Linked DNA regions of Homo sapiens. The protein of the gene in region 6 purifies or fractionates together with the protein of the main gene of each other region. This does not show direct contact. Each region holds a gene or a part of one and is shown on either strand. Other genes may lie near its edges.

Evidence for each region.
Region 1: the proteins of KIAA1191 (region 6) and FAH purify together in Homo sapiens (co-immunoprecipitation; one large-scale study listed by IntAct). This does not show direct contact.
Region 2: the proteins of KIAA1191 (region 6) and RNPEP purify together in Homo sapiens (co-immunoprecipitation; one large-scale study listed by IntAct). This does not show direct contact.
Region 3: the proteins of KIAA1191 (region 6) and UBE2Z purify together in Homo sapiens (co-immunoprecipitation; one large-scale study listed by IntAct). This does not show direct contact.
Region 4: the proteins of KIAA1191 (region 6) and LMCD1 purify together in Homo sapiens (co-immunoprecipitation; one large-scale study listed by IntAct). This does not show direct contact.
Region 5: the proteins of KIAA1191 (region 6) and RCBTB1 purify together in Homo sapiens (co-immunoprecipitation; one large-scale study listed by IntAct). This does not show direct contact.
Region 7: the proteins of KIAA1191 (region 6) and FBXO22 purify together in Homo sapiens (co-immunoprecipitation; one large-scale study listed by IntAct). This does not show direct contact.

The regions. Positions count from the first base shown.
Region 1 is NC_000015.10:80,151,635-80,156,189, forward strand, and holds the start of FAH (fumarylacetoacetase), read left to right. Parts: upstream 1-1,364; 5' UTR 1,365-1,420; coding exon 1,421-1,501; intron 1,502-4,555.
Region 2 is NC_000001.11:201,999,566-202,003,493, reverse strand, and holds part of RNPEP (aminopeptidase B), read right to left. Parts: intron 3,593-3,928; coding exon 3,479-3,592; intron 3,444-3,478; exon of another isoform or gene 3,167-3,443; intron 2,119-3,166; coding exon 2,006-2,118; intron 1,836-2,005; coding exon 1,727-1,835; intron 371-1,726; exon of another isoform or gene 258-370; coding exon 33-257; intron 1-32. UniProt on the Homo sapiens protein: Exopeptidase which selectively removes arginine and/or lysine residues from the N-terminus of several peptide substrates including Arg(0)-Leu-enkephalin, Arg(0)-Met-enkephalin and Arg(-1)-Lys(0)-somatostatin-14.
Region 3 is NC_000017.11:48,925,407-48,929,556, forward strand, and holds the end of UBE2Z (ubiquitin-conjugating enzyme E2 Z), read left to right. Parts: intron 1-1,557; coding exon 1,558-1,728; 3' UTR 1,729-3,650; downstream 3,651-4,150. UniProt on the Homo sapiens protein: Catalyzes the covalent attachment of ubiquitin to other proteins. Specific substrate for UBA6, not charged with ubiquitin by UBE1. May be involved in apoptosis regulation.
Region 4 is NC_000003.12:8,571,095-8,575,024, forward strand, and holds the end of LMCD1 (LIM and cysteine-rich domains protein 1), read left to right. Parts: 3' UTR 1-3,574; downstream 3,575-3,930. UniProt on the Homo sapiens protein: Transcriptional cofactor that restricts GATA6 function by inhibiting DNA-binding, resulting in repression of GATA6 transcriptional activation of downstream target genes. Represses GATA6-mediated trans activation of lung- and cardiac tissue-specific promoters.
Region 5 is NC_000013.11:49,582,583-49,587,243, forward strand, and holds the start of RCBTB1 (RCC1 and BTB domain-containing protein 1), read right to left. Parts: upstream 2,977-4,661; 5' UTR 2,862-2,976; intron 1-2,861. UniProt on the Homo sapiens protein: May be involved in cell cycle regulation by chromatin remodeling.
Region 6 is NC_000005.10:176,348,321-176,351,851, forward strand, and holds part of KIAA1191 (putative monooxygenase p33MONOX), read right to left. Parts: intron 2,418-3,531; coding exon 2,293-2,417; intron 37-2,292; coding exon 1-36. UniProt on the Homo sapiens protein: Potential NADPH-dependent oxidoreductase. May be involved in the regulation of neuronal survival, differentiation and axonal outgrowth.
Region 7 is NC_000015.10:75,906,718-75,910,647, forward strand, and holds part of FBXO22 (F-box only protein 22), read left to right. Parts: intron 1-3,930. UniProt on the Homo sapiens protein: Substrate-recognition component of the SCF (SKP1-CUL1-F-box protein)-type E3 ubiquitin ligase complex that is implicated in the control of various cellular processes such as cell cycle control, transcriptional regulation, DNA damage repair, and apoptosis.

The DNA.
Region 1 (4,555 bases), on a different chromosome or scaffold from region 6:
AATAACACAACGACACACTCTCCGGTGTGTTCCAAGTGTCCTGGCTGTGGCATGGTCTCAAAAAACTGCAGCTGACTGCACATGAGTGATTAGATAACACCTTGAACCCACCCTAAGATAGTCTGCCTTTCCCTTCTTTCCTGTCTTCCTTCTTTTCTTTCTCCCTCTCTCTCTTCTCCTATTTCTCTTTTATCTTTCCTTTCCTTTATCCCCCTCCCCTCCTTTCCTCTTTTTCCCTCCCTTCTCTCTCTTTCCACACACACATAACCTGTATATGCCAGGCACTATTCTAGGTGCTTCACAAATATTAATTCATTCCATTCTTATATCAACTTTGTGAAGTAGGAACTATTATCATCAACATTATACAGAGAAGGAAGCTGAGGTAGAGAAAGTTTAAGTAACTTGTCCAAGGTTGAGCATCTTGTCAACGTCATTTTACTACTGGCATGTGAAACAGGTGAGTTATATTTTTTAGAATATTAATTCTCATTAATTGAAGCCTTCCAAACAGGCCTAACTGTCCCCTTCTCTGACATACAAGTGGAAGTGTCATAGCTGGACGGAGCATCATGGTATGAAGGCAGAAAGGACGCGACTGGGTGTTCTTCTGAAGCTCAGGGAGCAGCTCTTGGGGAGAAAGTGTTTCCAGGAAGCGGACAAGAGTTCTGTTGAGCTGAAGAGCAGGGCAGCAGCCGGGGCGAGCGAGGCTGGAGTCATGCAGGGCAGAGCCTTAAATGCTAAGCTGGGGTTTGCTCTCGGTAGGACCAGCTAGCTGCCCCGAGCGGGGGCTGGAACCAGATCTCCCCCACGTGGACTCGCGGACAGGGCGGGGATCAGGACGGGGGCGGGGCCAGGGGAGGGGCGGGGCTCGGGGAGTGAGGCAAGACTGGAGGGCCTGGGACTCTCGGGTACCCGGGCCAGGGGAGGGGCGGGGCTCAGGGAGGGAGGGAGAGACTGGATGACCTGGGGCTTGCAAGGCGGGGCGAGGGGAGGGGCGGGGCGAGGGGAGGGGCGGGGCTCAGGGAGGGAGGGTGAGACTGTGGAGGACCTGGGGCTCGCGGGGTCGGGGCAAGGGGAGGGGCGGGGCTCAGGGAGGGAGGAGAGACTGGAGGACCTGAGGCCCACGGGGGCGGGGCCAGGGGCGGGGCGGGGCTCTGGAAGGGCGGGCGAGACTGTGGAGGACCTGGAGCTGGCGGGGGTCAGGGTAGGGGGGAGGGGCAGGGCTCGGGGTTCGGGGGCGGGGTGTTCACGGTGAGACCAAAAGTCAGGTAGGAGCCTCCGGGGTCCCTGCTGTGTCACCCGGACAGGCCGTGGGGGCGGGCAGGGGGGCGGGGCCGGGCCTGACCACAGCGGCCGAGTTCAGTCCTGCTCTCCGCACGCCACCTTAGGCCCGCAGCCGTGCCGGGTGCTCTTCAGCATGTCCTTCATCCCGGTGGCCGAGGATTCCGACTTCCCCATCCACAACCTGCCCTACGGCGTCTTCTCGACCAGAGGCGACGTGAGCAGTGGGGCTTTGGCGTCCGGGCGCGGGGAGGGAGTGGAGTGGAGTGGAGTGGAGTGGAGTGGAGTGGAGTGGAATGGAGTGGAATGAGGGGCGGGATGGAGGCTTGTGCCATTTTTCTCTTAAGATTCGTTCCGTGAGAGTGCCTATGGGCTCGAGTCCCGCCTCGTAACTTTCTAGCTGTGCACGTTGTTTAACTTTTCAGCCTCATTGTCCGCAGGTTTGCTGAGAATTAAATGCAAAATGAAATGAATCGTGTCACTCTCCCAGACAAGCAGAGCAAGCAGGATTCTGTTACCGGAAGCTGCAGCACACAGGCATGCTGCCTACTCCGAGGTGGTTGCGGTGTGTTTCTCTCGCCCAAGAGGCCAGGTCAGGGCTGGTGGTTCATCTCGCTGGATAGCCCCTAACCCTAGAACCCGGGAAATGATAACCCGGTATGCGTAGCAGGTCAGAGGGGCACGCGCGTTTCTTGGCTTAGAGTTGTGAGATCTAAGATGGCAAGTGTCTCTGCCTATAGCTGAAATTCTTTCAGCTCCTGGTGTGGGCTCCCTGGCATTCCCCTACTGATCAGAAGAAAGAGGGCAGGGAAACAAACTTTGACTAAGTCAGTGTAGTCTGATTGGTAGAAAGAAGTATTTGAAAACTGGGGGTTTATCAGCAAATAGATAATAAGAGGTTCCCTAGGTTGGAAAAGCAGATTCCCTTGGATTTGTTGATGATATTTTTGGCTTAGATTTCTGCTCCCAACTTTAAAGGTAAACTCCTGATTCATCTCTGTAAGCCATAGAACCCCAGAATCAGGAAATGTTTGCTAAACGAGGGGCCTGGCAGTTGGCTTCTTCTTGGAAAGTGGGGTTCCCTCCTTCCCCCATGGCTTGTCATTGGATGCAAGTGGCTGGCCTTTTGTGGGCCTGTCTGCGGTAAGTGCTTTGGTCTAGAAGAGTCAACTTGTGGTTTCACATCTGGCCGGGCTGACCAGATGTTGCAAGGATACAGAAAGTGGACACTCAATCCCCTGGAGGACACAATCTGAGGCACATTAAATCTTAACTTGTGATGGCCAACAACCTTTCTGCAGACAGAGCCCTCCCTCTGCCCTCCTCAAACACTTTGCCCTCGGCAGATGTGTCCTCCCTCACCTTTCCTGGGAGCACAAATCCATTAGACAGAAACATTTGTGAGAGGCAGGCACACCCCAGTAGGGAGCTCTGACTTGCTTTCTCAGGGGAATCGAATTAATATCCGTTAGAGTGTGGCTAGGTGTTTTCAGACACCATGTCCCGCTGTTTCAACATCAGAATGTGCAGGGCAGCCACTACAGATGTCTGGAAGAGAGAGCCCCATTCCGCTGTCCTCTGATACAGTGCTGGGGGTGGAGAGTTGGCCCTTTGGCCTTCCAGCTGAACAAGCCTCTTCTGAAGCTTTCTCTGCAGGCATTGGACATTCCAACCGTGATGGCTGCCTTGCCAGGCAAGACTAGTTGCCAAGGCAAAACCTCCCTTCCCCCATGTCAGCAGTCAGCCTTTCCTAATTTGAGTGGAATAACAATGAATCCTGCCATCACTTTATTCATTTTTTTTTATTCAGCGAATGCTTATGAACCCCAACTCTGGTCCAGATTTTGCCTGGGCTCCGAGTTGGCATCAAAGACACAGGAGACGCCTTCCTTCCATTTCTGGTTGATGGACTAGTAAGGTGTACAGGGGTGCTCTCTGTGAAGGTAGGGGTGGTGGCCTCTGAGAACGGGGTTGTAGTAGTGTGGAGCTGGTTTTGCCGGGTGCCTTGTTAAAGTCCCCGTGGTCTGGCTGTGCTGCTGCCTCCTGGCCTCTGCTTTCTCCAGCCACATTGGCTGCCTTTGAGTCTCTGAGATGTGCTAAGAGCAGCTTCCTGCCTTCAGGCCTTAGCACATGTTGTTCCTTCTGCCTGGAATACTCGTCCTTCTGCTCTCTATATGCTTGGCCCCTTCTCACTCTTTGGGACTCAGCTTAAATGTCACCTCCTAAGCACCCTCTCTGAATGAGCTCCCCGCTGCGGCCCAGCCTTGGTTATCTCTCACCACACCCTGTGTTTCCTTTTGCTTCTGGAGAGAAGGAACCACGTCACTGTTCCCAGGGCCTCAGCAGCCTTTGTGTAATGCTGGTACTGAGAAGATGCTCTCTAAATCTTTGTGGCATGAATAGCGTCTACCCTGTGTCTGTTCTTGTGGTGAGAGATTTACAGATATTAATTAAATTCTCACAATAAACCTACTGTGAAGTTATTGTCCCCATTCTACAGATGAGGAAACTGAGGTCCAGAGAGGCAAAGCATCATGCTCCAGATCTCACAGCCAGTAAGAGGCAGATATGGGGTTGATCCCCACATCTGTCAGCCTCCCAATCTGTAAGGTCCAGCCCTACGGGGCTTAGCGGGTTTTCTCCCTGTGTGCGGAAACGAGAGATTGTAAGAAATAAAGACACAAGACAAAGAGATAAAGAGAGAACAGCTGGGCCCGGGGCACTGCTACCACTGAGACACAGAGACCGGTAGTGGCCCCGAATGGCTGGGCACACTGATATTTATTGCACACAAGACAAGGGGGGCAGGGTAGGGAGGGTGAGTCATCCAAGTGATTGATAAGGTCAAGCAAGTCATGTGATCATGGGACGGGGGCTCTTCCCTCTAAGGTAGCCGAAGCAGAGAGGGAAGGCAGCATAAGTCAGCATTTTCTTCTATGCACTTATAAGAAAGATCAAAGACTTTAAGACTTTCGCTATTTCTTCTACCGCTATCTACTACAAACTTCAAAGAGGAACCAGGAGTACAGGAGGAACATGAAAGTGGACAAGGAGCGTGACCATTGAAGCACAGCACCACAGGGAGGGGTTTAGGCCTCCAGATGACTGCGGGCAGGCCTGGATAATATCCAGCCTCCTACAGGAAGCTGGTGGAGCAGAGTGTTCCCTGACTCCTCCAAGGAAAGGGAGACTCCCTTTTGCGGTCTGCTAAGTAATGGGTGCCTTCCCAGGCACTGGCGTTACCGCTTGACCAAGGAGCGCTCAAGCGGCC
Region 2 (3,928 bases), on a different chromosome or scaffold from region 6:
ACAAGGAGCCCTGGTTCACCATTTTTTCTTACCAGGAGGGAGAGGGGATTTCTGGAGGATCTTATCCAGGAAGTAGACCAGCTGGTAGGTCTTCCAGGGAGAGATGGCCACGGCTTCAATGGCCTTCATGTCCAGCTCCTCGGCTGCCCACAGTTGGGCTAGCTCTTCAGCAGGCTTCATGAGTGAGTCCCCAGGGGAGAGATCAGGGAGGTACGGGGGCCAGCCGGGGGTATTCAGCCATCGATCAAACTCAAAACCTGTTTGGGAGGAGAGAAGACACTATCAGAATTCTCTGGCCAGGTTACGGTCAACTGGTTTAAGCAACTCCCAGAGACCTCAAGTTTCTCCTCTCTCCATCCCAAACTCTTTCCCCAGCATTTAACATTACTTTCCCATGTAACTATTCGCTCCAGCAGGGTCCTAGTTATAACGACATCTAGAGACTGTGCCGTTTCGACCGTGAAAGTGCTTTTCGCTCCAAATTAGCACTGTGTTGTCAGAGCCAAGTTGGTGGATGCTCTATTCACGTGCACATTCTCCTACCGATCACAACCACACTGTACTTAAGCACCCAGGCTCTAGGACCAGGCTGCCTGGGTTCCTACCCCTGCTCTGTCATTAACCAGCTGGGAGGCCACGGGCATGTTACTTCACCTCTCTGCACCTCAGTTTTATCTATAAAGTGGGGGTGATAGGCCCTGCCTCCGTGATGGTTATGAGGATTACATGAGCAAATAAACATTAAAAGCTTAGCGTATCGCCTGATGCATAGTAAGTACTCTGGAATTATTAACTACCATTAGCTCCGGAGTCCCCGCATTAAAATGCAAGCCTCCAACCGAACAGTAGGTGCTGCTAAAGTCCTGACCAATCCTACTGTCAGAGGACGCGGACTTCATCAAACCAACAATAGAGTGACTCAAGGTTCAGGTCACAGCAAGAAGTGGGGGTATGTCTAATGGATTGTGTCTTCCATGACAGGACATTTTTCGTTTTTTCTTTGGAAGTGGTACCTCCCAGGCAGAAACTGGCGGCTGGGCACAGCGGCTCACGCCTGTAATCCCAGCACTTTGGGAGGCCGAGGCAGGTGGATCACCTGAGGTCAGGAGTTCGAGACCAGCCTGACCAACATGGAGAAACCCCGTCTCTACTAAAAATACAAAATAGCCGGGCGTGGTGGCGCGTGCCTGTAATCCCAGCTACTCGGGAGGCTGAGGCAGGAGAATCGCTTGAACCCGGCAGGCGGAGGTTGCGGTGAGCCGAGATCGTGCCATTGCACTCCAGCCTGGGCAACAAGAGCGAAACTCCATCTCAAAAAAAAAAAAAAAGAAAAGAAAAGAAAGAAAGAAATAAGGAGGGCCACTGGGGTTGCCTTCACTCAGAAGGCTGTAGGAGGGGTGCTGCCTCCGCTCCTGCCCTGTGAGTTTTAGCTTGGGGCAGTGGTGCGGCAGCAGTGGCAGCTCTCCAGGCAAGTTAAGGGTCTGACTGTGTGTCCAGGTGAGAGGAGAGAGTAAGGAAACAGACTGGGAGAAAATGAGGCAGAGAGGAGTGAAAAGAAGTCATTCTTGTGGAATAAATCCCAGGATTCTGGGTTTGCTTCCCAAAACGCCCCTACCTAGCTGACTCTGACCCAGTGTTTTCCCATCCACCACCATCTTTCCGAGTGTCAATGAGATCTCATTCTCTACTATTTTTTAGAAGCCTGTGGGCCAGTTCCTCTGCTTACCTGGAATGATATCCACTCTCTTTTTCTTAAGCTCAGGGAAATATTCCAAGTAGAAGTCCAGAAAGTCATCGGCTAAGATGCTTCGGAATTTGAATTCATGCACATAGGCCTGTGAGGAGGGAAAGCTCTTTAGACCCTCTCTGGCCCCGTGGGGAGTGGTGTCCCTCTGTGTCCTGGGTCCTCCTCCAACCCCTTACATCTTTCGCCCCCTGCCTCTACCCTTGATCAGGCCCAGTGGCTTTATCCGCTCCTCTTCCTTCTCCCCTCATGTGACTATACCTTGAGAAAACTGTCAAACTGATCCTGATCACCCACCAAGTGGGCCAGGTATGAAACAAAGCAGAAACCTTTCTCGTAGGGGGTCTCATTATAGGTGTCGTCCGGGTCAACGCCTGGCAGAGGAGAAAGCAGACAAGATTTGAGCTTTTGTAGCCTGTCACCCGTAACGTTCTTCTCTAGCTCCACAGTCAAAGACTAGCGATGGAAGAGATCAGAATTCAGCTTCCCCAGGGACAGCAAGGCCAAGAAGGTGTCCAGATCCTGGCCTCTCTCCAGATCTTGGACTCTCTCAAGGCCAAGACTCTCTCTCTTAAGATCTCTATCTCAAGGCCAAGATCTCTCTCCAGATATTGGCCTCTCTCAAGGTACTTCCAAGATCTCAGAGGGCCATTCACTGTGGATCTAATATGAAGACAGAGAAACCAGCCTTCCAGAGGAGCGGACACATTTCCTTAGTCCCAGGATACACTTTGTGTGGGTAGGTTCCATCAGCATTTCCCACTGAGCACCAAGCTGTGTCTTTTCCATCCCTATTGGTCACCACCTAAATACTCAACCTACCCTCCCAGATCAATGTTTTTTTTTTTTTTTTTTTAAGACGGAGTCTTGCTCTATCACCCAGGCTGGAGTGCAGTGGCACGATCTCAGCTCACTGCAACCTCTGCCTCCTGGGGTCGAGCGATTCTCCTGCCTCAGCCTCCCCAGTAGCTGGGATTACAGGTGTGCATCACCACACCCAGCTAATTTTTGTATTTTTAGTAGAGACAGGGTTCTCCATATTGGCTAGGCTGGTCTCGAACTCTTGACCTCATGATCCACCCGCTTTGACCTGGGATTACAGGCGTGAACCACCATGCCCAGCCAATGTGTTGTTTTTACAGCTGTTCCAGGCTAAAACTAATTACCCGTCTCTAAGAAATTCATCTGCAAACTTAACGGCATCAAGGAACATGAGCTTCAATTGCATAAAAAGGTTTCAGATTAGTCACACATGGAATGAAGGAAAATGTTAGGAAGTAAAAAGATCTGAATTTGGAGAGAGGACCCGGATCTCAGTTGCAGTCATGCACTGATTAGGTACATGACCTGGACAAGACACTTAACTTGTCTGGCACTCAGTCCCATCCTCTGTAAAATAAGGCTAATGCTTTTATTCTACAGAATCCACAGATCTGCCCTGATGATCATGAAGGAATGCGAAAGAGCCTGGTAAAACGATATGGACTTGTGCAAATGCAAAGCAATGGTGAAGTCATCACGAACCGCACAGACTGGACAGAACTCCTATCTGGCTGCAATGGCTTGGGTTCAGTCAGCCCAGGGGCCAGAGAATTGGCTACAAAGAGCTCTGGAGTGCCCCTCCCTCCAAATAAAGTATTCTAAGCGTGCACTGATCAACATGAAGTTCGCATTAACTTGGGGCTCCAAGCTCAATTGAGGGGAGTGGGTGTCAGACAGAGGAGCCTCCTGGACCTGGTTCAATCTTCACGCGGAGCTTGTTGAGTGGGTTTTCCTCTCCAGTGATGTCCATGTGCTGACGCAGCAGAGCCCGCCCCGTTGCAGCCTCCAAGCAGGTGTACGCAGCGCCTGGTGCAGAATCAAACGTAAGCCTCGGGAAAACGTCTGTCACCACATCCAAGTGTATTTTCCTGACAGAGACACTGTGCTGCCTCCTTGTGGCCTCAAGAAGAACAGCGACAGATACCTGAAGCTTAATAACATTACCCTCCTGGGGACCCAGGGCAAATAGGGACAGTTACAGAGAGCCTGACTCAGTCCCTAGCTCCCTGTTGCTGTGGGCTACAAAGGACTTGGTTAACTCAGGCTGTTGGTCTCTCTCCTAAGTGAGGACTGGGGGAATCGCACCTTTCTGACAGTTACCTTTCCTTATCAAAGTACTGTATTTTTATTTTATCTTATTTC
Region 3 (4,150 bases), on a different chromosome or scaffold from region 6:
GAGATGACTTATGCCCTCCAGTGCTACTTATAAATGGTAGTTTTCCCTTCCTTCTTTCAAGGACTTTCCACCCACCTGTCTCATTTAAGCACAAAGGGCAGGGCTGGCTCAGGACTAAGTTGTCTCCTAAACCCTTTTTGAGAGTATATCAATGACATATGTCCTAGTTTGTTCCCCATCAGGAATTCTAATTGCTGGTATCCAACAGCATTAGCAATATCAGTGTGTAAAGGAAAAACAACTGGTGATGAGGGATGGGAGGGAGTACAGCATCTGGGCAGGAGGAGCATTAGAGGAGCTGGAGCCACGGATGAAAGAAACAAGATTTGCAGAATTGACAGCTCCATAGTAGTAAATGTGGAGCTCAGTCTTGAGGGAGTTAACTCTCATGAAGGAGAAGTGCAGGCTGTAGTCCCAGTGACAGTGACTAGCATCCACTGCCATCCCACTCAGGATGAGGGTAATGTGTGGGCAGAAGTATGGAAGGAGTTTTTGTGAGAGAAGCAAACAATGTGAGAGGGAAAGTTGTGTACCTTTTGGGGGCTGTTGCACTGCTTTGCTGCCTAAGTCCCTATATAGTATTTTAAACTCTTTTTTATACCATCCACTCAACTAGTTGTTTTTGAGACTTTGGGGACAATTAAACCTTTCTGTACAACGTTTAGGGATCTTTGATCTAGAACAAGAAGGACTAAGATCGAGGCTGGGTGGCCCTGGAGCAATGCCCAGAAACCTGGATGGGAATGGAGTGACGAGTCCCTGGGGAGGAGTACAGGTGCTTATCTGAAAGTCAGAACTCTTGAATTCTAGACCTGCTTCTGACCTTAGAAAAGCAGATTACCATTTTTGAGTACAGAGAATAAAGAGCAACTTTTACCTTCTGTGGTTTTTATGAGGTTAATTAAAAACATAGGCATACTTAACAATTATAATTCTGGTCTTGAATTTCTCATTCCTATCTATCTCACCCTTATTGTCCCTTCTTCCGGATATTGGTTTGCTTTTGAGGAATACCAATACATTTTCACTCTAGCCCAAGCTACACCTATTTGGGGCGGTAAGAGTGTCTTTTTTTTTTTTTTTTTTGAGACCAAGTTTTACTCTTGTTGCCCAGGCTGGAGTGTAATGGTGCGATCTCGATCTCAGCTGACTGCAACCTCCGCCTCCCGGGTTCAAGTGATTCTCCTGCCTCAGCCTCCCGAGTAGCTGGGATTACAGGCATGCGCCACGACACCCGGCTAATTTTGCATTTTTAGTAGAGACAGGGTTTCACCATGTTGGTCAGGCTGGTCTCAAACTCCCAACCTCAGGTGATCCGCCCGCCTCGGCCGCCCAAAGTGCTGGGATTACAGGTGTGAGCCACCGCGCCTGGCCCAGGTGTCATATTTTTAAGCAAAGGTTATTTTGCCTGCTGTTTGGGACTGCCTGTGCTGTTAGGCCTTCCTGCTCCCATGGCTCAGAAGTTGAGCTTTCATTTCACATGGGCCCGAAGTTGCTTTCTCTAGGATCAGCCACCCAGACTTGAATCTTCCATCCCCTTGTCTCCTTTCCCCACAGGACCCTTTTGGAGAGAAGCGGGGCCACTTTGACTACCAGTCCCTCTTGATGCGCCTGGGACTGATACGTCAGAAAGTGCTGGAGAGGCTCCATAATGAGAATGCAGAAATGGACTCTGATAGCAGTTCATCTGGGACAGAGACAGACCTTCATGGGAGCCTGAGGGTTTAGACCCTGCTCCCATCTCCCCTTCCCCCACTCAAGAGTCCCAGCAGAATCCCTTCCCCCCACCCCAGGGATGGAGAGGCACTGTGTATCTCCCTCCAGACTCGAAGTCATCCTGCAAGATGGCAAGAACCAAGCAAGCTCCGATCCCAGGGTGTGGGAGTGGGGGCCTGTTCCCGGTCTGACCTCCTTGGCACTGGAGCATCTGGGGCTTCGTTCATCCATTCATCCCGTATCAGGGGCCAAGGTACCTTTACAGGAGCACCTAGAGCGAGGGCCTTTGGCAAAAACAAAACAACCAACACACCTCTCCACAGGGCCAGCTCCTTAGGGATAAGTGGAAGATGGAAATTGCAATTCCAAGAGGGAGTGTGCCCAAATGATTTATGGGGATACCTGGAAGGGAGCTTGGGGTGGGGGCTGTCTGTGACACTTAAGCAGTCTGGGTGGTTGTCTATTTGTCTGTCTTCAGTCTTGAAGCAGGGCTTCCCAATGCCCTTTTCCTCCCTGCCTTCCTTCCCCCATTATTTCCCACAGGCCAGCATAATTTTGTTTTTCCTAATTTATAGTCACTGTTCTAGACAGACCAAAGAGAAGGAACAGTGGTGGAGTCTAGGCTGCTGATCAGTAAGCTTTACCTAGCACCTGAGCACCTTTCTCCCCTCCCCTCTTTCCTCACCCTTTTCTAGATGTAAGACAGAAAGTAAATGTGACTGGGACTTAACCAAGGTCTTGGTAAAGCCTGCATGGCACCGTAAGAAGCTGAAAATACTGTTTGTTCCCGCAATCACTGATTTGAAAAGTTCCCAACACAGGCAGCTGCTGTGTATATGGGATTAGAGCCACTACATAGAATAGTCTCTTACAGATTTTCATAAATACTAGTCACAATAAGGGTATTTTTCTTGGGGGTGGAGTAAGGGGGAGACTGATGCTAGTCCTTGTTGTATTTTGTTGGGCTGTCCTTGTGTATTTTCACCCCAGCCTGTAGTCCTCCTCACTTCAACCCCAGGGATTTTTGGGGAGCAAGGGTAGCCAATGGCAGAGGGGGTTGGGGCTGGGACTCTGGAGGCTCCTCCCCTTCTTTCTCTTCCTTCCGCCTCCCCCGTGCCCCCAGCTGCTCTTGTCACTGTCTCTGATGGGTATTTGCCTGGCTTTGTTGCTTCTCTATCTGTATTTAGCTGCAGTGATCCTTTAGCTGGTTGGCTCAGAAAAAAAAAAATGTGCTTTAGGTGCCCTGTAATCCTGGGCATCAAGGGAATCCATCCTTCCCCTTTTTGATATGTTCTCCCCGTACTTCCAGATTTATTGTTATGGCTCCCAGTGGGTATTGGCGATTCTTGTGATGCAGGGCCTCAGTCAGTGTCCAGCCATGCATAAGGGAGAGGATAGTGTGTACCTGCCCTGCCCTCTGCTATGAAGGTCTCTGCCTTGTGGATCATGGGACTCCCCTTGGAGGATCTGTGCAAAGGGGGGCTGGGCACAAAGGAGAATGTCCTATTTGGGAGGGCAGGAAGCAAAGGAACTGGACAGGGATTGGTGGGCTTGGGGAACGGAAGTTTATCTTGGATACCCTTGAAGAGGCTGGGTCTCTTCACATGAAGATCGAAAAGGGACCCTGCTTCCAATTTCCCTCTTCCATTCCTCGAGCTACTCCAGGGCTTAGAAGAATGCTCTTGGTCTGTGGGTCCAGTGTTGTCTGTCATCCATTTAAGTGTTCCCACTTTCAAGTGACAATCCTCTCCTTGGCCCTGCCATAGGGCAGAGCATGTCTGGCATAGCAGCCTGACTTTTATGCCCTAATCTTGAGTTGAGGAAATATATGCACAGGAGTCAAAGAGATGTCTTTATATCTGACTGTATATAAATGAAGTTTTTTTGTTTTTTTTGTTTTCCTTTTTGGTGCAATAAAGTTTGTTTTGGCAGAAGGAGGAAGTGCCTGTGGGTGTGGGAGGGCTTGTGTAAAGGACGAATGGGATCATCTTGTCAACCACACCTCACCTAGGCCTGGAACTGTTAGGGAGAAGGAAAGTGCCATGAATTGTCTGGAAACCGAAGACTTGCATAACATGGTGGAAGGGCAGGGCTGGGTGGGGAGAGCAGGACAAGTTTTCTCATTGGAAATGGGGTCCATGCTCTGGCAGTCAGTGACATCTTAGTTTGAGTGGTTTCCAAAGACAGACCTATTCCAGAGCTTGGAGTGAGCATGTCCTACAAGGATAGGCAGAGGAAGAGATGGGCCCAGGCTATATCCTGCTAAAGGAAGGGTCTCAGTATGGAAAAACCATTGAGTTTTCAGATTTCCAGTACTAAACTAGCACTTTTAGGATCTTAGCCTTTAGACCATAAGGACTTTGGGAGCCTTAAACAACTCTGGCCTCTTCCCTCATCACCACTTCTACTTGCTATAGGAGATTCTTGCTTTCTG
Region 4 (3,930 bases), on a different chromosome or scaffold from region 6:
CTCCCACTCTCTAGGAAGACTTTCCTCCCTCACCCTTCCCTTGGGGTGTTTTAGGTGCCCTTTATCTGTAAGTTCATAATATCCCAGGCTTACAGTAATTCTTCCAAGGCCTTTATTGTGCTATAATTATTTATTCATGAAAGCCTTCCCCTATGAACTTCTAAAGAATAATCGTATTATCTTTATTTCCCCAACTCTTAGTACAAATCCTGGCAACTAAATGAAAGAACAAACAACCTGGGGTTCTGGGATGGTTCGTCTTTGCTGATGGCACTGTGTTCCAAAATGGCCAAGGTCAAATATAAAAATTTCAGACTGAGGTAGACACTGCTGGCAGCCTACACATTGCCACCACACCCCACTTCCTTCTTCCTAGTGGCAAGGAAGCAGTGGGTGGAGAGGGTGAGTTCCTGTCAGGGAGACTTGTCAGTCTGAGCAGAAAATGTTCAAAGTGAGATATGACTTTGGGGATGGAGACAAAGGGAGGATGGAGAGAAACGACTGGACTGAGAGAAGAGCCCACTCCCCTTTATGTAAATTGGCTTTGCCAACCTGGTCTGCAGCTGGAGAAAGGCCATGCGCCTCTATTACCAGCCAGTGGGGCTTCCGCCTTAGGAGGGTCTTAGAAAAGTGTTTTTCCTTAATGAAAGGAGATACTGTGCAGTAAATAGCCCTGCTGTTGTTTTCTTTTCTTTTGATAGAATGTCAAACTTACGAAAAAAGTTACAAGAAGAGAACAAAGAGCTATTAGAGGGTGTTGCTGACACAATGCTTTATCACTCTTGAATATTTTCGTGTGTAATTCCTACAAATAAGGACATTCTCCCACATAGCCACAATACAACCATCAAAATCAGGAAGTTAACGCTGATGTGTTTCTACCATGTAATCCTCAGATCCAATTCAAGTGTCACCAGCTGTCCCAATAATGTCTTTTATAACAAAAACATTCAGTCTAAGATCACTCATTCTATTTAGTTATCTTGTCTATTCTTCAATTTGGAAGTGTTCTTTGTTCTTTCCTGAATGTTCATGACCTTGACATCTTAGAAGATTAAAGGTTATTTAAAGTTGTTGAGTTAAATATCCATTAAATTAGGTTTGTCAGATATTTCCTCGAAATTAGATTCAGCTTATGCATTTTTTGGAAGGAATACCACAGAAGTGATGTTGTTTTCTTTCTGTTGCATCCAATCAGATGATACAGGATTTTGATTTGTTCCATTACTGTTGACATGAATTTTGAACATTTGATAATGCCAGTATCAGCCAGATTTTTCCATTGTAAAGTCATTCCTTTGTCCTTTGTATTTAATAAGTATGTTTAGGGACTTTGAGACTATGTCAATGTCCTGTTCTTCATCAAAATTCCACTCACTCATTCTTAGTATTCATTGACGTTTACTGATCGAACTAATTATTATTATGATAGTTGCCAAATGTTGGTTTTTCTAATTCAATCATTTCTTTAGTGTTTATTAGCATTCTACTATAAGGAAAAGCACTATCTTCTCCCCATTTATTAATTCACATATTTACATCAGCTTGGAGTTATTGATTTCTATTTTATTAAATAGTTTATAATTGATTACCATCCTTATTTATTTTAATGCTCAAATTGTCCCAAATTATGGCCAAAGAAAGCTCCTTCAAACTGGTTGCTATGTCCTTTTGACATGGCCCATCATTCTTTAAACACATTTTACATCTGGCACAATAACGTGCTACATACCCATCTTGTATTTTTCCTGCCCCATCTTTGAAATCAGCCATTCTCAAGGGGTTCCTTCTTAATCTGGCTGTTGTTGTGTTGGAACTCCTGGTACCATCTTAGAACCTTAAGGAGACAAGCGAACCAAGCCAATAAGCTTTCCATGATGCTGCTTAGAGTTAAACAGAGCCCAGGTACTAAGTTATGTCATGGAGACAGTGAACTAACCTCTGGACTGCTTGCTACATGAGACAATTGATTTTCTTATTTTCTATGTAGGGTGGTACATTTCCTCATTTTGAGATATTTCTTCAACATATAGCTTTTCATTAGTGGGGATTTTGTCAATTATAACCAAAAACAATGTGACGGATACCCAAGATGTTTCATGTTGTAGCTTGGGTGAATTACACATTTCTGAAGCCATTACACTTCCTAGTTTATTTGGATTTAAGTTGACAAATAAAAATTGCATATGTTTATGGTCTATAACATGGTGTTTCGATATATGTATACATCGTGGAATGGCTAAATCAAGCTAACATATCCATTACCTCACATAGTTATTTTTTGTGGTGAGAACATTTTAAAAATATTGTCTTAGCAATTTTCAATCAAGCCTGTCCCATGGAGACACAAGCAATAGTGACATGAGCACTTGACTCGCTGGGTTATCAGGCTTTGGCTCCAAATGTTTGGCTTCAAATATGAAAAAGTTACATGAAAGATGAAACTATGCAATGGCATGGCTGTTGGTCATTCACATCTCTCTCTGCCAAGAATGGGGATGACGCTGTTGAAGGAAGAAATGTGTTTTCTCCTTTTTCTCAAGTGATATTTGCCTTAGGTCAGATTCTACTAGTTTAAAGCAAAACGATCTCCTGGTCTGATTCCTTTGGGTCTCTAATAATGGAAACTGCAAGGATCAGCATAAAGTGTTCCTTTGTTCTGACGTTGGTATAACATTGCTTCTTGAAAAATGAAAGTATTTGGACATACAGACAGAAGCAATATTATTCAGGTCTTCCTTGTTGCAAGTGAGGGAAATCCAATTAAAACTGGTTTAAACCTAAAAAAAAAAAAAAGAAGAAAAGAAAAGAAAAAATATGAGAGGGGTTTTGCTTTCTGGAATCTGCTTTCTAGTCAGAAAGTGCAGAAGAAGGGCTAGCTTCAGGAACAATTGGATGCAGTAGTTCAAATCACAAGTTAAGTCTCTGCTTCTTTTCTCCATCTCTCTTCTGTCTTCCTCCACACTGGCTTTATTCTTAGGTAGGCTTACCCAGATAGTCATAAACACAGCCACCAGTGGCAGCTGGGCTCACTTTTGTCCTTGGAGCCAGTGAGCCCATGAAAAAGGAGCTTCTCTTTCTGGAGCTTCCCAGGGGTAACTTTGATCAGCCAACAAGGGTCAGTCCTATGCTTATCCCTTGACCAATCTCTGTGCCCAGAGGGCAGGGTACTCTGATTGGCAATACCTTCATCGTGGGCCAACCACTGTGGGGAAGGGGGAGGGATTAGAAAAGACAGCCACACCCAAATCTCATGAAGCAGTCCCCTTTATTTTAAAAAAGTCCCTGTGAGAGCAACAGGAGCAAAGCATGGAGAAGAAGCAATCTTGGAGAAGCTGGAAGAGAACTGACCCAAAGAATCCAAGAGACTAAGACTGTGCAGGGTTGGGGAACGGAAGCTCACACAGGAGGCCTGGACAGAGCTGCAGCAGAGCCAGGAGAGAAGCCAAGTGGCACAGCTCATCTTGAAGTAATTATAATGCCACTAAAATTCTCATTTGTATTAATTTTTTTTAATTACTGGCAAGATAAGGCAAATGTTTTTAAAGGCCTAAATAAAATGATATTCCCTGAAGGAAATGTCCAGAGGGTTTTATTTTGGCCTTATTTTTTTTAATTCTATGAAAGATGATGGAGACTTACTAAACTGTTTTTATGGGGAAAGTTTAATAAATGTGAAGGATGTACTTCCATGAGTTCAAATATGGAAAGTTTTAAAATAGAAGAGTGACACAAGCAGCTAATGATCCCAACATGTTAGAGTATGCAGGCTGCTGGCCCAGATTCCGGTTTTTAATCAAATATATAAATTATGAAATATTGTTACAAGGAATCGCAAGCCTTTGCCCTACAAGGGAATGGTGTGTGCCTCAGTTGACAGGAGAGCTCTGCGGAGTTCATTTTCTGCTGATAAGGGGACAGGGAGAAAGC
Region 5 (4,661 bases), on a different chromosome or scaffold from region 6:
TGTGAATGAAAGCCAGTTTAAAGGTTAGGAATCCAGATGCTGGAGACATACTCATTCTCTCATTCTCATTCTCTCTCCCCGCTGAGTCTCCATTTTACATGCCCACCGGCAATGTACAACAGTGCTGCTTTCTCCAGTATTTACTGTCTTTTGTATTATACCCATCCTAGTGGATGGGAGGTGGTATCTCATGGTTTTGATTGGCATTTGGAGACCATTCTCTTCTGAGGTCACCTATTTTTCCCCTATGAAGAAAGAGTTAGGCTTTTTGCTAAGAGTAAGAGGGGAGGTAGCAATAAACAGTGGAGTGGAGGCCGGGTGTGGTTGCTCACGCCTGTAATCCCAACATTTTGGGAGGCCAAGGCGGGAGGACTGCTTGAGGCTAGGTGTTCAAGACCAGCCTGGGCAACATAGGGAGACCCTGTCTCTACAAAAAATAAAAAAATTAGTCGAATGTGGTGGTGCGCACCTGTGGTCCCAGCTACTTGGGAGTGGGGAGGATCACTTGAGCCTGGGAGTTTGAGGCTGCAGTGAGCTATGATCACATGGCACACTGTACTCCAGACTGGGCGACATAGTGAGACCCTGTCTCAAAAAGAAAAAAGTGGAGTGGAGCAATTGGGGGTAAAATGGTGAAGTCTGAAGCAGTCACCAGGGAGGATGGGAAAGAGCACTGAGCAGAGAAACCTAGCAGGATGGTAAGACCAAGCCCAGAGAAAGCTGGAGACCGTAAGTCTTTAGAGGTACCCATCTGGTCTCCTCTGTGAGCTTTTCTACCCCAGGAAAGAAGTGTGCTTTTGTGTATGTGTGTGTGTGTGTGTGTGTGTGTGTTTTAAATGTGATCTAACACACAGTTGACTTATATAATTATTTCATTAACTGATCTCCTCTACTAAGTCTATTCTGGCTAAATTCAGACAACACTCATCATACCCCTCTTGTGCATTCTTCAGCACGTACACAACATGTACTTTTTTTTTTTGAGATGGAGTCTCACTGTGTCGCCCAGGCTGGAGTGCAGTGGCACAATCTCGGCTCACTGCAACCTCTGCCTCCCCAGGTCAGGTAATTCTCGTACCTCAGCCTCCTGAGTAGCTGGGACTACAGGCGCACACCACCACGCCCAGCTAATTTTTTGTATTTTTAGTAGAGACGGGGTTTCACCATGTTGGCCAAGCTGGTCTTGAACTCCTGGCCTCGTGTAATCTGTCGCCTCAATCTCCCAAAATGCTGGGATTACAGATGTAAGCCACTGCGCCTGGCCAATATGTAACATTTTTAACTTTTTGTAAAACCAGAGAATATTTTGAAATGTGTCCGAATGCCCTGCCTAGATTCTAGACTCTGTGAGGCCCCAGCCTCCTTTCCTATGCATGACTTACTGTTTAATGTAGTACACACAGAAGGGATATCATCATCATAATAAAGGTCCTCACTTTCCTTCACAGTTTCATCTACCCCACAATGACTCCCAGGAAAAGGAGGGTACTGTTTCAGACTTCCCAGCTCCCGTATATTAGGTGGAGCCAAGTTCTTGCTGCAGCATACGGGCACGCTTTAAAATTTTCAAATCATTTTTTAAAAGCTACAAGCTTGACAGCTTTGGGTTTTTATGGCTACTTGTTTTCTGAAGTTCACAGAACTTTATCATTTGGATCACACACTTAAAAAAATCACTTGCAAAAATCTCTTTAAAGATGAATATGCTTCCTCTTCAAGAGAAACAGACTAGCGGGTAGAAGAAAAAGGACCCGTCTAGAGTATTAATAAATAGACTGATATTCACACAATGGATTAAATGGATTAAAGTCCATCCCACAGATGAACTGTTATATTAATAGAATCCAAATATACAGTTACATCCTCGACCCTGAAAGCAGTTTAAACGGGTGAAATTCACCCAGTGCTCACTTGAAATGAGTACTCTAAAGTTTAAAGCACCTATAAACTGCCCTCAGGATTCAATCATTTTTCCATTCCTTCCGGCATTATATACTTTGATGTTTTAATGTTATTAGCCCACAATACACACCAGTTTCAGAAACTCAGTTTTTGTCCTCTAAGGGCTTTTAGTCCTCCCAAAAAAAGAATAGGGCAAAAGCAAGGAAGATCATGAATCTGGTTTTCTAAAAGCATTATTACAAGACTGCTTTATAAAATTGTAATCCCCAGCTGCAGAGTTCCGCAGATGGCTTGAAAGTGTCTTACATGCAAATAAATAAAAACAAAAGGCCACTTATGCGAGCAGAACACAGCGTGCTCGATAGTCATCTTAAACCGAGCAGGTAGGTACTTTATCAGAGGCAGACAAGGGAAACGTCACTTATTTAGAGTTCACCGCACGCCTGGATAAAAGTCCTCACTAACAAAATCCCTGCCTTTGTGGATTCTGTGTCGGAAAGGGAAACGATAAAGAATACGGTTTGTGACAGCACTACTCTCAGGAGACGAAGGAGAGATGCTAAGATCTTGGAAAGGAGAGAGAATAGGAAGAGTCGGAGGGGAGATCTCCTCTCAGTAAAACGGCACCCACAGCAGTCAGACTTCAGCTACGAGCAAAATCGAGTCCGTGCACCTCAAAAAAGAGAGGGAGGCAGGGAAAACTTTCCCTCGCCTCTCCCCATCCTTCCCTCCTCCTCGCAGGAGAGCACATTAGCTGAGGTGCTGGCGGGGCCGGGCCGGGGACCCCATCCCTCGCCCCGGACGCAGCGCCCGCAGGGACTGCCCGGGAGCCCGAGCGAGGGAGGCGGGAGGTACAGGAGTAACGGGGCACTCCCGGCCCGGCCTGCGGGGAAGGGAAGCAGGGGCAGGGCCGAGGGGGAAGAGGCCTCCGCGAGCTCGACCCCGCGCCCACACGCTACCTGCGAGGTCAGCTGCTGCCGCGCCGTCCCGCGGGACCGCAGGGATCTCCGAAGCTCCAATGGGCGCAGAAGTGCGAGCGAGCGGCGGTGCCCACCGGCAGCGAAGAGGAGGAGCGCCAGGGCGCCGGGCCCGCCGGGTCACGTGGCCCCGGCCGCCTCACGTGACCCGGTGCAGCGCGCGCCCGGGACGCTACCCAGCCGAGCATCCCGCACCGCCCCGGCCCCGGCCCCGGCCGAAACCCTGCTCTTCGGGCCCTACAACCCGACTTCTTTAGAAGCCGATTGGCCGTCTCAGGCCCGCCCCGAGGCCCTGCCACTGGAGTGTCCCCATGAAATCCGGTGGCTGCTGCCGGGACTTAGAGGCTTTTGTGTCTGAGGAACCAGGAACGCGCGAGGCACGGGCTCCTGCTCTGCTCCCCGAGATGGCTTGGCTGTGGGGAGGGTCGGCCTACCACCCCAGAGACCTAGGACGGAAAAGCGACCGAGAAACTTGGCTCCCTGCCCACTCTAGAGCGCGTCTGGCCCCGGGGCACCACCCAGGTGGTGCTGCCTGGGAGGAAAGGCGGCGGAGCTGGGACTAGTTTGTTTTTACTGGAGACGCGCCTCCCTCCCTCCCCGCCCCTCACTTCCTGATTGAAAGTACCTGAGGCAGGCCAGGGACTAGGGAAGGTGGCAGCTGGACAAAGGTATGAAGGAAGGACGAGATGAGGCACAGGTCCTGGTATTGGAAAGAGGCAGAGGTACCTCGGAAGCATGCCATAGAGGTTAGACGGGACCTAAGAGGGCATCTGGTCCAACCGGATTCGTGTTACCAGCGAGTAAACTGAGGCCAGGAGAGGGACTGCTACGAGCTGCTCCAGCCTATCACCTATAAAGACTACAGTCCCTTTGTAAAATACCATACAGCTCTCGGAGAACTCCCAGTTGGCGCTGCAGGATAAAATCCAAACTTGTTGGCATAGCATTCCAGCCACTTGTTCACTTACCTTTCCCATTTGAGCTCCTAGGAATAAACAGAAAAACATTTCATTTTCTAAATATCACCAGATAACTTCACTTTTGGTAACTTGAATTATTAAAAAAGTCCTACCGTCCCTCATCTCTTGCCACTTCCCCAACATTACTGGAGGCTCTGGCTACAAATAATTTGTTTTCCTTGACTACTCAACTTTCTTTGGATTATTTACTTTTTCTCTAAGTTTCTTTACTCCTTTTTGCTTTGTTCATTCTTTTGTCTGTATCTGAAATGTCCTGAATCACCACCTCCCCCACTTAAAGAAAACCAGGGCCAATGATTAAAAAAAAAAAAAAAGGTATTAAGAAACTAATGCAATAAGAGAATTGAGCTTAGTTCTGTATCTATTCTGAGGTCTCGCTCCTGTTGCACTAGTTCCTGAATAAAATGTTTTTACCACTTCAACTACTGTTTGGCTCTGGTTTTCTTCAACAGCCTCCAAAGTACACATCAGTTTCCTACTCATCTTTCAAAATCCAGGTCAAATGCCGCCTACTCTTGTCTTCCCAGCATCCTCTTCCCTGATTTTTTAGCAATTGAAGTTCATCCAGACAGTGTCAGCTGCAACTTCTTCCCTGATTTCCAGAATACTATATATATTCTGATACACCTCACACTGCCCAGAAATAGACTGCGCATTTCCTGTAAAAGGTGAATTGTCTATTGCTGTCTTCTCCCTTAGATTATAAACTCTTTGAAACAGGATTCTTCTGGGTTTAGAACAGCGCCTGGCATGTGATAGACCCTTAATACTCACTGAATGAAGTGGCTTGCCCAAAGTAGTG
Region 6 (3,531 bases):
TTCTTTTGTTACCTCTCCACTCTGTAACTTTAGTTTCTGCTCAGATGGGTAAGAAGAGAGACTTTTTAAAAATGAAAGCAAATTCCAAACAGATAAGTCTAGGCATAAAAAATTTGGTTCGCATTCTAACTTTAGGCAGAAGACATCTACAGGTGGAATGATTTCGGATGATCTAACAGGTAGTCCTTTGTTTTTGCCATACTAGATGGAACTCCATCTCCTTAAAAAATGTGTTCATTCTACACTATATCATGAACATCCCTGTACTTAAAGCTTTACACTACAACTTTTACTTTCAGAAACGTGAAGTAATTTCCCCACATTCCCCCAGACAGTAAAATGGAAGAGCCAGAACGCTAGCTGCCAGCCTTCTTGGCCTTTTAAGCAGGGCTTAAGCTCTTGTCTCGCTGCTGCTCCTACCATGTACAAAGCCCTGCCCATCCTCAGTCTCTCCAAGCCAATACTCAGGCATGCTGCTTCTCTCCAGCTAAATGCTTCCTCTGAGGAGCCTGTTCCATTCTCTCCTCCTTCTCTCCCATAGTCAGCCACTCTGGGTTCCCTCAGCACCGTGAGCATTCCTCTGACTCGCAGTCTAGTGGGGAGAGACAGGTCTACATCTCAGCTCTTCTAGAGCAAGGTTCCCATGCTGTTTCCTCCCTCCAGGCCTGCCACGCCACTGCTTAACCCAAGCTGCACACCAAACAATGATCACGTTTGAATTTTCTCAAACGCTCAACAGATCCATTCATGTAAGTTGACAATCTGTTACAAGATGTAAGTTACAGCTAATATTTCAGCCATCCTCATGTTCTACTCCTATGGGCAAGACACAGAAAGTGGGTCAACCAAAGTCAATCCTACCATTATATAAGGTGAATTGCTCAAATAGAATTCTCACTGACCTATCCTGGAAAGTTCTCAGTTAAGGGTCAAAGGCTGCCGGTGCCCCTCTCTGGAAGCTTCTGTCTTGTTTGAAAGCTTAAACTGGCCACCAGCCCAAACCTGATTTCCTATAGCAGTTTTTAAACCTAGCCTGCAAAAGAATCATCTGGAATGCTCATTACAAAATGCAAACAGGGCCGGGTGCGGTGGCTCATACATGTAATCCCAGCACTTTGGGAGGCCAAGGCAGGTGGATCACATGAAGTCAGGAGTTCAAGACCAGCCTGGCCAACATGGTGAAATCCCATCTCTACTAAAAATCAGCTGGGCATGGTGGCGCATGCCTGTAAATCCTAGCTATTTGGGAGGCTGAGTTGGGAGGATCACTTGAACCCGGGAGGCAGAGGTTGCAGTGAGCCGAGATCACAACACTGTACTCCAGCCTGGGTGACTGCAAACAGGCCACAGTTTTATATCCACAGTTTTATATCCCCACCCACAGGCCACCAGATCCGGGTTATTCCTCGTTATGTATAATGTATACCATGATTCTTTCCTGCGTCGTGTGCTCTCCTCACCTTGCCCTCATCATACCCTGTTCAGAACTCTTAAAATAAAGCTTGGAACAAGCCTGGATTCTGACCCCCCCTTGCCTAAAGAAGACAGCCCAAGTTTCTTAACTGTAATTGTGTCTCTTCACAATCTGCCCCTGACTTCCATATGAGCCCCTTCAGGAGCCAGATTTCCAGGCTGCTTTGGAATGAGGAGGAAGAAGCCAACAGGAAGTAAGGCATCAGGAGACTTGGGTTCGGGTACTATGACTGGCTGAATAGATGGCCTCGAACCTCAATCTCCTCATTTACAAAATATGGAGAAGAGCATCTGTCCCAAAAGGTGATTGTGAGGATGAAATGAATGCAAGTGCTTCACAATCATAAAACACTATCCAGTATGAAGCGGTCTTCACTGAAAGAAAGTCATTTGAAACTATTCATTCAAATACTTGGCTATCACTAAATTAACCCTTACCAAAATTCTTCACTTATAGAAATGAAATAGCAAAAACATTCCAATTCCACATTTGATTTTAACTTGTTCCTTTCCAGTTAAGCTGTTACCTCTGTTGAGGCTGCCCAGTTCTCCCCAAGATACTCCACATTTGCTTTATGATTCATAAAGTACTCCTATGTATATGTAAGCTGAGGCTCTCACTTGATTCTGCTAACCAGAAGTAGCAAAACAGACACCCCACTGTATAGGTGGATAAGCAAAAACTACGAGGCTAAGAGCTCGGGAGCGAGACTAACTCCACAGCCCCCAACTAACTGAGCTGGTAACTTCAAAACCACAGCCACATTTCAAGCCATGAACACTGAAGGTTTTGTTTTTTCAAAGTTCCTAAGAGCTTACGTGGAGTGCTTCGGCCACTCGAAGGTACTTGGTCTCCTCGGTGGTGAGGCCCTTGTGGGGTGTGTAGCCAGCATCTCTCAGCCCTGCCTGTCGCTCAAAATGCTGAATGCTTTCCTGGGTCTGTTCTGGGAACAGAGGAGATGACAGTCATGCCCATTCCCCTCTCCCATCACAAAATAAGGAGGACAACATGGATATCTACTATTCTCCCCAGAAGCAAGAGACCACACTGACCATTCAAAGAAGAGGAGACTTTCCCCAGAGAGGCACCACAGCAGTAATTCTGAACCTCACACAAAGGCTCTCTAGCCAGAAGGAAGCCTTCCCTCACACCAAGCTGAAGAGGTTATTCCTAAAGGGACAGCTGAAGAACCTTGAGGACAATACTCCCACCCTCCTCTTAGTTGTACATGGTGACATTTTCTTTGTATTTAGAAATGCAACATGGGGCTGGATGCAGTAGCTCACACCTGTAATCCCAGCACTTTGGGAGGTCAAGGCGGGCGGATCAAGAGGTCAGGACATCCAGACCATCCTGGCTAACAAGGTGAAACCCCATCTCTACTAAAAATACAAAAATTAGCTGGGTGTGGTGGCAGGCGCCTGTAGTCCCAGCTACTCGGGAGTCTGAGGCAGGAGAATGGCGTGAACCCGGGAGGCGGAGCTTGCAGTGAGTCGAGATCGTGCCACTGCACTCCAGCCTGGGCGACAGAGCAAGACTCCATCTCAAAAAAAAAAAAAAAGTTACATTGTGCTAAAAGAACAATGAATAAGTTTTGTAACACTGCTAGAACACATTCTCAAGCTTGTAAAATAAAAGTAGTGTTGCTGATTCAACAGATGTGAATAAGAAAATCAAAGTATAGGTGGTGCGTGATGGCTCACACCTGTAATCCCAGCACTTTGGTTGGCCTAGGCGGGCAGATCACGAGGTCAGGAGTTTGAGACCATCCTGCCCAACAGAGTGAAACCCCATCTCTACTAAAAATACAGAAATTAGCCAGGCGTGGTGGTGGGCGCCTGTAGTCCCAGCTACTCCAGAGGCTGAGGTGGGAGAATTGCTTGAACCTGGGAGGCGAAGGTTGTGGTGAGCTGAGACCACAGCATTGCACTCCAGCCTGGGTGACAGAGTGAGACTCTGTCTCAAAACAAAAAAAAAAAAGAAGAGAAACCAAAGTAAGAGTCTGGACCTTTGGTTCTTGGTGAATTCACTAGGAATTGCCCAGGACAAACTGATGC
Region 7 (3,930 bases), on a different chromosome or scaffold from region 6:
GTAGAAAACTTTTCTTCTCTGGCACTTTGTCTCAACTCTTCCCATTTTCCCAGAAGTTTATCATTTGGAAAAATTCAAAATGCAAGCAGATTTCCTCGAAAGTGTTCTCTGGAGCATCGTTTATAATAAGGGATACTAAAAACCTAATGTTAATCTAATAAATAAAGCTATTAAATTATAGACTGCAAATGCATTAATGACAAGAGAAAATGTTGATTTTAAAAGTGAAAACAGATTATGAAATTATATATTTAGTATCATCTGAATTATTAAAGACAAAAAAGGGAGAGTAGAAAAGAAAGCCAAAATGTTAGCTTTTTTTTCCATTTACTGTTTTTAAAAAGTTTTCTATGGTTTTTAAAAAGTTTTCAAATTTTTACCACAGCAGGCATGATTTTTCTATAGCTTTAAGAGTTTATACATTGTAGTGGCTGTTAATAGCCAGACAGACTTAGTTGTGAACCATAGCTTTGGCATATACCAGCGGTGTGACTTTGAAAAAGCTACTCAACCTCTCTGAGCCTCAGGTGCTATCTCCATAAAATAAAAAGAAAAATAATAATTTTCCTATGCCCTTATAGAGTTGTTGTGAGGATTAAATAATGAAAAGGTAATGCATATAAACATTACTTACAATACCAGGAGCATAAGTTCTCAATAGATGTCTATTAAATATTCTTTTATTAGTATCATTATTAAAGTTCACATAGTTATAGTAATGCCCTTAGAGGAGTTCCTCCATTGTAGTAAACTGCTGGTGAGACAAAAACATGAAAACTCTATCCAAATCATACGTGCTGTTTATTTGTGTTTTCCAAGTTATCTAGTGGACATGGGTACTTTTATAGCCATAAAGAAAGTTGATTTAACTTTTCTATTAGAAATATTTTAAAGTCCGCCAGGCATGGTGGCTCATGCCTATAATCCCAGCACTTTGGAAAGCCGAGGCAGGCAAATCACTTGAGGTCAGGAGTTAGAGAACAGCCTGGCCAACATGGTGAAACCCCGTCTCCACTAAAAAAATATAAATATTTAAAAATATCAAATATATAAATAAAAATATTAAAGTACAAAAGTTGGCTGGGCATGTTAGTGCAAACCTATAATCGCAGCTACTTGGGTAGCTGAGGTACCAGAATCGCTTGAACCAGGGAGATGGAGTTTGCTTGAGCTGAGATTGCACCACTTCACTCCAGCCTGGGTGATAAAGAGTGAGACTGTGTCTCAAAAAAAAAAAATTTTTTTAAAGTCCACCAAAAGCTTTATAAAACAGCTTGCCATTTGTAACTTCTTTGAACAGTGGAATGTGGTGTCAGCTGTCTTAACTGTGCTTTGAGAACATTTCATATTGAGGCTTGTTATGTCACTACTTCTAGTGTGAATTAGGAAGGAAAATTCAGCAGTTGCTTTTCAGTGGATGCCTCATAAACTCTCAGGACCAGACTTTTAATACTTGTTCAGGAGTAAGAAACCTGAGGCCTAAAAGCTTGCTGAGGGTTATTCTGCTGGTTTGTGGCAGAGTTGCCACTAAGACCTAAATCTGTTTTTTGTTTTGTTTGGTTTTTTTTTTTTTTGAGACAGAGTCTCGCCTGTCGCCCAGGCTGGATTGCAGTGGCCCGATCTTGGCTCAGTGCAACCTCCACCTTCCTAGTTCAAGTGATTGTCCTGCCTCAGCCTCCTGAGTAGTTGGGACTACAGGCGCATGCAGCCATACCCGGTTACTTTTTGTATTTTTAGTAGAGATGGGGTTTCACCATGTTGGACAGGCTGGTCTCACCCTGGCCTCAGGCAATCCACCCACCGTGGCCTCCCAAAGTGCTGATATTACAGGCGTGAGCCACTGTGCCTTGCCCGTAAATCTCTTTTTCTGTCTCCTTTACTCACTATACCAGGCATCACAGATTCAGATGACTCGAAGGTCAGGCAGGTAGCTGAAGAGGGTCAGGTAGCTCAATAGTCGTAGCACCATGGCAGTCTGGAAAGGCTTGCCTCCGTTTAGCCTTAGTTAAGAGGCACGTAGTCTAAGTGTTGCCAAAATGTCCAGTTTTTAAAAAGAATCTGGAAATCCACATTTTATGTAAAAATTCGGTGGAATTTTGAACATTGGCATTCAGTTTACATTTTCTGAAAATGCTGTGTGGACCAAGGAAACTATATCCGTAGGTCTTGGGCAGCCCTGGGCCCCACAGGCCATCATGCTATCTGTCTCTTTTATTAGTTTATCTATGTAGAATGTATTCTGAAACATCTTGGCATTCCCTCAAATTATAATGGACCAACTTTTTTTTTCCATTTAACTAACAATGAGGCTTTGCTATATCCTAAGTACTTCATTTTATTCTGGTAGTAAAAAATATTTGAAAATAGCTAGCTTGGAAAAATATATCATCCTTTTCATTTAATTCAGCTGCTTTGCCGCTTGTCTTCAATTGGAAAGTTTAGTTGAAAACAGGTGAGTCTGAATAAGCCCAGCTCATAGGGGAGATAGGGGACAAATAAGATTAACTAGGGGTAAGGGATGTTGCATCTGAGGTCCAGAGTACTGAGGGAGTTTAGGAAAAGGTTTTGGAGAGGAGGTGGCACTTAAGGTGTCTCTAGAGGGAAACAGTCTTAAGTTCCACAAGAACAGAGCAATAGAACATATGGGGAAGTCGGTGTGTCTGGATAATATTAATAGTAAGCTAAGGGGCCCTGAAGGAAGCCTTGCTGGCAAGCCTGGAAATGGAGGCTTGGAGTATTTGATTTGATAAGCAGTGAAAAGGGAGTGATACAGCCTGTATACCTTCCCCAGTGCTGAGATTTTTCTGATACTGTGATGCCTGTTCAAATAAAGCAAGTGCATCTTTTGCTGGTACTTGATGTTTTTGTTCTAAGAGCTTCAGTTATCATTATGAAAATGAACTTTTTGAGGGCTGGAATGAAGAAATTATAGGTGTTTAGTAAATGAACTGAAAATGAAAGAGCATGAGTGAAAAGTAAATGAGAAGTAGATTGACTCAGAATGCCAACATTGACCTGAAAGAAGGTAGGGTACCAGCAGTTTGGATGGGGTGATACTTTTTTTTTTTTTTAAATTTCTGCGATACATGTGCAGAACATGCAGGTTTGTTACATAGGTATACACGTGCCATGGTGGTTTGCTGCACCCATCAACCCGTCATCTACATTAGGTATTTCTCCTAATGCTATCCCTTCCCTAATCTCCCACTCCCTGACAGGCCCTGGTGTGTGATGTTCCCTTCCCTGTGTCCATGTGTTTTCATTGTTCAACTCCCACTTATGAATGAGAACATGCAGCATTTGGTTTTCTGTTCCTGTGTTAGTTTGCTGAAAATGATGGTTTCCAGCTTCATCCATGTCCCTGCAAAGGACATGAGTGCATCCTTTTTCTATGGCTGCATAGTGTTCCATGGTGTATCTGTGCCACATTTTCTTCATCCAGTCTATCACTGATGGGCATTTGAGTTGGTTTCAAGTCTTTGCTATTGTGAATAGTGCTGCAGTAAACATGCATATGCATGTGTCTTTATAGTAGAATGATTTATAATCCTTTGGGTATATACCCAGTAATGGGATTGCTGGGCCAAATGGTATTTCTCTTTCTAGATCCTTGAGGAATCACCACACTGTCTTCCACAATGGTTGAACTAATTTGCACTCCTACAAACAGTGTGAAAGTGTTCCTGTTTCTCCACATCCTCTCCAGCATCTGTTGTTTCCTGACCTTTTAATGATCGCCACTCTAACTGGCATGAGATGGTATCTCATTTTGGTTTTGATTTGCATTTCTCTAATGACTAGTAATGATGAGCTTCTTTTCGTATGTTTGTTGGCCACATAAATGTCTTCTTTTGAGAAGTGTCTGTTCATATCCCTCGCCCACTTTTTGATGGGGTTGTTTTTTTCTTCAAATTTATTTAAGTTCCTTGT